Linked DNA regions of Homo sapiens. The protein of the gene in region 2 purifies or fractionates together with the protein of the main gene of each other region. This does not show direct contact. Each region holds a gene or a part of one and is shown on either strand. Other genes may lie near its edges. The genes, in order: SPTB and RPRD2.

Region 1 (3,817 bases), on a different chromosome or scaffold from region 2:
CCCTCAGAGTCTCCTGGCTTAAGGACTGCCACAGAAAGCTAGAGCTGGCAGGGTCCTGGCCTCTCAACCTCCTTCTCCAGAGTAGCTCCATTTTTCCTCTGTGTGACCTGGGGGTTCCATACACAATTCATCTGAGCAAAGACTGCTATTGCTGAAAAGTAATTGAATAACTGGACTAGATAAATTCCCTTTGTTTGAGGAACACAAGGCCCCAAAGGGTGAAGTACCCCAGGCCACAGAGCCAGAATAGAACTTATGACTCCTAATGCCAGGACTTTGCAACAAAGGACATCCCAGGGCCTCTCAAAGAGACCTTTGCTGATCCAGAGACTATTACCAAACTAGGTGGGAGATGGTGCCCAGGCCTGGGTACAGGGACGTGAGGAAAAGATGAGTTAACTCTGACCTGTGCTGCACGACCTCCAGGTCCTCCAGGGTGTCTGGCATTTCCATCTCGGCCAGCCACTTCTCCTTCTCTCCCATCCACAGCTCACAGGCGTCTGTCTCCCCGAACACCGTGTACAGGTCCAGGGCTTCCTGCAGCCTCTGCTGACGCAGGTCCGCCTGGGCCACCACCTGTTGGTAGAGCTCCCGCAGGGCCTGCAGCCGATGGGTCACATCTGGGGAATCCCGAAACTCTTCGGGGAATCCCTGGGCCTGCTGCTCCAGGTGCTCCATCACCCCACGGCTCTCCTCCAGCTCCTCCAGGAAGTCCTTGTGCTTTTTCCCCAGGGCCCGCGTGGCCCCTTCGTCCTGCCCCACATCTTCACCAGAGAGCAGCCGGTGGGCGTCTTGCAGCCAAGCCTTCAGGTCATCCGCATCGCCCTGGAACTGGAAAAAGTTCTCAGCATCCTGGAGGTTCTTCTTGCAGAAGGCAGCCAGGTCCTTCAGCTGGTCCCACTGTGCCGACACCTCCTTTATGCGGGCCTCGATCTGCGGGTGCCCAAACTGCTTGCGCGCAACCATGCCATGAGCCTCCTGGAAGATCTGCTCCAGGTGAGCATCCAGCCCACGGAGCTCATCCTCAAAGGCCTTGTGCTTGCGCTGTAAGATGAGCACACTGGTCAGGTCTTTGCCATAGTCCAGGGAAGAATAGATCTGCTCCTTCTCCTTGATCCAGCTCTCAGCCTCATCCATCTCCCAGAAGAACTTCCAGAGTCGTTTGGACTGCTCCAGTTGGGCCTTCCGCCCAGCTGCCATGTTGCTCAGCTCCTCAAAGCACTGCTCCAAGTGGCTGATGCGGTCCTGGATGACCTGGGGGTCACAAGGCTGGTACCCTGGAAGAAATAGGGGGAAGGAGGACAAAGTGGGGGATGGGCTTCATTTATGGGCACGCTTCAGATAAGCTGCTAGGTTGGAACTACACAACCCTGAAGCTGCCATGTCACTGGGGCTTTGGGGTTGGATGCAGGGGGGTCCCAGTTGCTCAGAGGGTGGACAGATTCTTTATAATTATTTCCCACTGAACTTCAGGGTTAAGGAAGATAAAAAGTGGGGTTAGTTCTTAATAGAAATGTACAACATAAAATTATTTTTAAATTAATTAAAAAAATTTCAAGGTCATTCTTGAAAGATGCAGTGAGGTCTCTTATTTAAAACAAGAATCTGGAAACCTAAATTGTCTCAGCCATAACTTGAACTAGCAAGGAGAATGAAGGACAGAGGGTGCCTCCTTGGTGATTATAGGTTACCGAAGCAGTTGCCTGCTCTCTAGAGAATTTGGCTGGTCCCTCAAGCTTCTTTCTTGGACCATTACTTGATGAAAGTAACAGAACTTTAAAGTTGGTTCCAGGAGATTTATCCAAGTTGGGTTGTTAGGCCAGAGGTGAGGCTCTGGCATTGGAAGCCTCAAAAGGGGAGACAGACTTGGTCTCACCTTTCCCCTCGGTGAACTTCAGGGTGGCTGCGGTGATGGCCTTCACTTTGTCCCCTTGGATGGCGATGTCAGCTTCCATCAACTTGTGCTTCTGTAGCAGGTCTTCAACCTCCAACAAGTGCTTCCCAAACTCGGCAGACAAGAGGTGAGCCTGGCAAAGAGAACAGCAGAAAGGAAATGAGGAGAAGTGAAGAGACCTACACATTAGGAGAAGAGACCCCTGCAAAGGGCATGTCTCTAGTAATCTGAGCAAGGGTGAGCCAAATGCAGCCAGAAAAGGGCTGCTGCTGAGGATGGAAGAAGCTCCAGAGGGAGAGTGCCTACTGGGGGTGCCCATCAGCATCATCCATAGAACATCTTACAGATGCTCAAGCCCCACACTCATCTACTGCATCGGTCTCAGGGTTGGGGCCTGGCCATGTGTATTTTCACAAAGCTCCAGGGGCAGTCTGATGTGTGTCCTCAGCTGAGACCCACTGCGGCAGAGAGAGAGGAGAGGTTGCCCTCATGCTGGGAGGTCTGGATTCTAACCAGAGTCAAATTGTAATTACTAAGAGCTTGATTCTCCAGGTTCCTGATTAATGTCTGTCTCTTCAAGGCCCTGAAGGTTGGCACCGGTGCTGCCACAAACCCAAGATTTCTCGGTCACCAGGGTACCATGGACCTGGGCTGGTATCACCTGCTGGAGCAGAGTGGACCAAGAGGCAGAGAGGCAGGTGCAGCTAGACACTTTGCTGCCTCAGTTTCTCTATTTTGACTCAGAGATATGACTGGCTGGGAGGTGTCTAAGGAAGCCTATGCTAACTGCAGGGCCACTGAGACCCAAGGTGAGCACTGCAGGGCATGGCGGGGGCGGCCCCCAGGGCCCACCTTGATCTCATCCATCCAGTCGATGCTGTGCAGCATGTCCTGGAAGAGCTTCTGCAGTGCCAGGGTGGTCTCGAGCCTCTGGCGCCGGGACTGCAGCAGCTCCTGCAGGTAGCTCCATAGGCGCAGTATATTGTCCTTGCGGGCCGTGATGCGCTTCTGGTCATGGTAGTTCTCTTTCTCCAGCTCCTGAGCCAGGTCCTCCAGGGCTCTCACCCGCTCCTCGTAGGCAGCCGTGTCGGTCTCGATGGCCTCATGCTTCTTCTTGGCGGCCTCCACAGCTGCCAGGTCATACCCAAAGTTATCCTGCCCCACCGGGAGAAAAACAGGCAGCTCAGTCAGACACCCAGGGGCTCATCCCCAAACTCAGGGACAGGGCAGCTCCCTTCAGAACCAGTGCTAGATGGGAAAGCACATTCCCAAGAAGCAGCTAGTTCTGCCTTACTTTTGCAGCCTGTCTTATCAGACCCAAGTTCCAAAAATTAATGTCTCACAAGAGACTCTAAGAGAAGTTCATGATTTTACTCCCCGTGCCACCCGCGTGGGAGATGCAGCCTGCGTGTTACTAATGGAGCCCCTTGGCAGCCTGCTGGCACTCCCCACATGCCTCGAGTGGACCTGTTGGATTTGGGGCAGGAAGGGGCTGCTTCTCACTCGGAAACCCATGCACCAGCAAACAGATGGTTTATTCACATGCTATCTGGGGTGCGCATACACTCTCCAGTGCTCTCAGAATACTTGTTGCCCCCTTTCTGGACAGAATCTAATTTGATTCCAAGCTTTAAGTGAGAGGGAACAGATGCTCTGATGAAGAATCAGCCCTGGGGTCAATTCTTAGCTAGAATTATGTCACAGCACCAGAGACCAGAGTCCAAAAGGCATGCCTGACACAGACAAGGTGCAGTCTGTGATTTTACCATATCCCCCAAGAACCACAATTTAACATCAACTGAAACCCCAGCTGTAGTTGACACTACAGGCCCACATAAGACAACTTCAGCGGCCAGTTCTAGACTCCAAGGCTCTTTCCTAAAAATGAGATTTAATAAATCCTGGAGAGCTCCTCCCCAGATG
Region 2 (3,817 bases):
GTGGTCATTATCCTTTTTTTTATTTTAGACAGAATTTCACTCTTGTCGCCCAGGCTGGAGTGCAGTGGCCCAATCTCAGCTCACTGCAACCTCAGCCTCCCAAGTAGCTAGGATTACAGGTGCCCACCACCACATCCAGCTAATTTTTGTATTTTTAGTAGAGACGGAGTTTTGCTATGTTGGCCAGGCTGGTCTCGAACTCCTGACCTCAGGCAGTCCACCCACCTCAGCCTCCCAAAGTGCTAGGATTACAGGCGTGAGCCACTGCGCCCCTCCTATTTTTTTTATATTTATCATCTATGAGCTGACATCTGAAGAATTATAAAATGTGAAAGCTGAAAGAGACTAAGTATTATCTAGTCTAATCCCTTACTTTTCAGGTAAGGAAACTAAGGCTCAGTAAGGTGAAAAGATCTGCTTATGGTCACATACCTATCTGTCTATTCAGTATGAGCCAAGACTGAAGGCCAGATTTCTTGACTGGAGTTCAGTATTCTTTCACCTACACCATGACACCCTAGGGGCTGCATTAGTCCCAGCTTTTAATACAGGTTTATATATGTTGAGTTTTATTAATTTCAGTGTTAACCAAAGCTGAAGACAGTAGGAAGGGTCCATTTATTATCAAAAAATATGGCCAGGTGCAGTTGCTCACGCCTGTAATCCCGGCACTTTGGGAGGCTGAGGCGGGCAGATCACCTAAGGTCAGCAGTTCAAGACCAGCCTGGCCAACCAGGTGAAATAACATCTCTACTAAAAATATGAAAATTAGCCAGGTGTGGTGACACACACCTGTAGTGTGCTGAGATCGCAGTAAGCCGGAATCACGCTACTGCACTCCAGCCTGGACGACAGAGCAAGACTCAGTCCAAAAAAAAAAAAAAAAAAAAAAATTTTTTTATGACGCTTCAAGAACATAGTGAAACCCTGTCTCTACAACGGAATTAAAAATTAGCGCCGGGCGCGGTGGCTCACGCCTGTAATCCCAGCACTTTGGGAGGCTGAGGCAGGCGGATCATGAGTTCAGGAGATCGATACCATCCTGGCTAACACAGTGAAACCCCGACTCTACTAAAAATACAAAAAATTAGCCGGGCGTGGTGGCGGGCACCTGTAGTCTTGGCTACTTGGAAGGCTGAGGCAGGAGAATGGTGTGAACCCAGGAGGTGGAGGTTGCAGTGAGCCAAGATTGCCCCACTACACTCCAGCCTGGGCAAAAGAGCAAGACTCTGTCTCAAAAAAAAAAAAAAAAAAAAAATTAGCTGGGCATAGTGGTGCATGCCTGTAGTTCCAGCTACTCAGGGGGCTAAGGCAGGAGGATCACTTGAGCCCAGGAGTTCAAGGCTGCAGTACGCTGTGGTCACCCCACTGTACTCCAACCTAAGTGATGAGACCCTGCCTCAAAAAAAAAAAAAAAAAAATTTCTGAGACATGAATATATCTTTTTTTGTCCTAATGTTTTATAGAGGCTTCATTATTTATTATTTTATTTATTATTTTATTAGAGTCTTAGATGTAGTATTTTTGTTTTCACCTACCTATAATCTCTCTCATTTGACCCTTTCTGTTCAGCTTTACTAATTATGTTTTGTGCATGACACTGCCTGTTTCTAACCTTTTTTCATAAATCTTTCCTACTCTCTACTCTCTTATGCTCCAGATACCAATGAAATCCTTTTTAAGTACCGTAGTATAATTATGAAATGAATTACAAATACCAGGGCAATATATTCAGTGTAGTGATTTACTCTATATCAGTAGTCTCAACCAAAGGCCTCCAGGGAGGACACTTGGCAATATTTGGAGACCTTTTTAGTTGTCTCAACTGGGGTAATGGTAGGGGTGCTACTGCCTCTAGTGAGTAGAGGCCAGGAGGATGCTCCTAAATATCCTACAATGTGTGAGACAGCCCCAACAATAAAGAATTATCTAGCCCAAAGTGTCAGTAGTGCTGAGGTTGAGAAACCCTGCTCTCTATCAAAGGAGTGGTGTAAAACAGTTTCCTAAACTGTTATGTAAGTGGATCATTCAAGCATATTATAGTGAACTTTGTCTGGAGGTGCAGAAGAATTTTGTTACACAGAACTAAATAGTATTAAGTAATAATCCACAGCCCCTATCTATTGGCATCAGCAATAAAGAATTGATGATGACTGCAGCACATGTTGTACTACTAATATCAGGGACAATTTGAGAGTTTGACATGTTTATGCTTTCTCCCTTTTTATTTTTATTTGTTTGTTTGTTTTTGAGACGGGGACTTGCTCTGTTGCCCAGGCTGGAGTGCAGTGGTGTGATCTCGGCTCACTGCAACCTCTGCCTCTCGGGTTCAAGTGATTCTCTTGCCTCAGCCTCTCGAGTAGCTGGTATTACAGGCTCACACCACCATGCCCGGCTAATTTTTGTATTTTTAGTAGACACGGGGTTTCGCCATGTTGGCCAGGCTGGTCTCGAACTCCTGACCTCACGTGATCCACCTGCCTCGACCTCCCAAAGTGCTGGGATTACAGGTGTGAACCACCGTGCCTGGCCGATGTGAAATTTCTGATGAGGCAAAATTTGAACAGAACTAGGTTCCTTATGGAATGTGGAATTCTCTTTGACTTTTAAAAGGATTGTATCTAGCAAGTTAAATAGATGTATTTCCTCGAAGACTGTTAATGAAATCCCAGAACTTTGTTCTGATTGTGTCATCCACAGCCCTAGGTATTGACAGATTTATAACACAAAAGAGAGACTTCAGGCCCGGTGTGGTGGGTCACACCTGTAATTCCAGCACTTTGGGGACGGGTGGATCACCTGAGGTCAGGAGTTCAAGACCAGCCTGGCCAACAGGGTAAACCTGTCTTTCCAAAAAAAAATACAAAAAAATTAGCTGGGCGTGGTGGCTCACAGCTGTAACCCCAACTACTTGGGAGGCTGAGGTAGGAGAATCGCTTGAACCCGGAAGGCAGAGGTTGCAGTGAGCCAGCCTGGGCGACGAGCAAAACTCTGTCTCAAAAAAAGAGAAACTTCAGTGGGCAAAGGAGCAGAGTATGACTTGTTATGATTAAAGAGCAAACTTTTGGCTGGGCGCAGTGGCTCATGCCTGTAATCCTAACACTTTGGGAGGCCACGATGGGAGGATCACTTGAGGCCAGGAGTTTGAGACCAGCCTGGTCAATATAGCAAAACCCCTATCTCTATTGTTTTTAAGAATTTTTAAAAATAATTAAAAAAAAAAAAGATTGGAGAACAGTAATATTTAGTGGTGAGAGACAATTTTACCTATTACCAGAAATCTGAGTAGTATATCTATCTTAAAAAGATGTTCTTTTGAAGAAGTTATCCCAAAATATCTGAAAAATATGCTGAAATATCTTCTAAAAATCATATTACATTATTATATATCACATTCTAGTGTTTGAGGACTTCTGGGTTTTGTGAGAACAGTGATTACTAAGAATTAAATCAGGCTGGGCATGGTGGCTCACGCCTGTAATCTCAGCACTTTGGGAGGCTGAAGTGGGACAATCACTTGAGCCCAAGATTTTGAGATCAGCCTGCGCAACATGGTGAGACCTTGTCTCTACTAAAAATAAAAAAGTTAGCTGGGCATAGTGATGTACACCTGTGGTCCCAGCTACTCAGGAAGCTAAGGCAGATAAATCTTTTGAGCCCAAGAGGTTGAGGTTACAGTGAGCTATGATCGCACCACTGCACTCCAGCCTGGGTGACAGAGCAAGAGCCTGTCTCTTGAAAAAAAAAAAGGAAACTATTAGTAGGGATGAATTATGTGGCTAGGGAACTTTTTTTGGAATGAAACATGCCGATTTTT

The links.
Region 1: the proteins of RPRD2 (region 2) and SPTB purify together in Homo sapiens (affinity purification with mass spectrometry; one large-scale study listed by BioGRID and IntAct). This does not show direct contact.

What each region holds. Positions count from the first base shown.
Region 1 is NC_000014.9:64,792,591-64,796,407, forward strand, and holds part of SPTB (spectrin beta chain, erythrocytic), read right to left. Parts: intron 3,050-3,817; coding exon 2,747-3,049; intron 2,028-2,746; coding exon 1,877-2,027; intron 1,278-1,876; coding exon 407-1,277; intron 1-406.
Region 2 is NC_000001.11:150,465,142-150,468,958, forward strand, and holds part of RPRD2 (regulation of nuclear pre-mRNA domain-containing protein 2), read left to right. Parts: intron 1-3,817.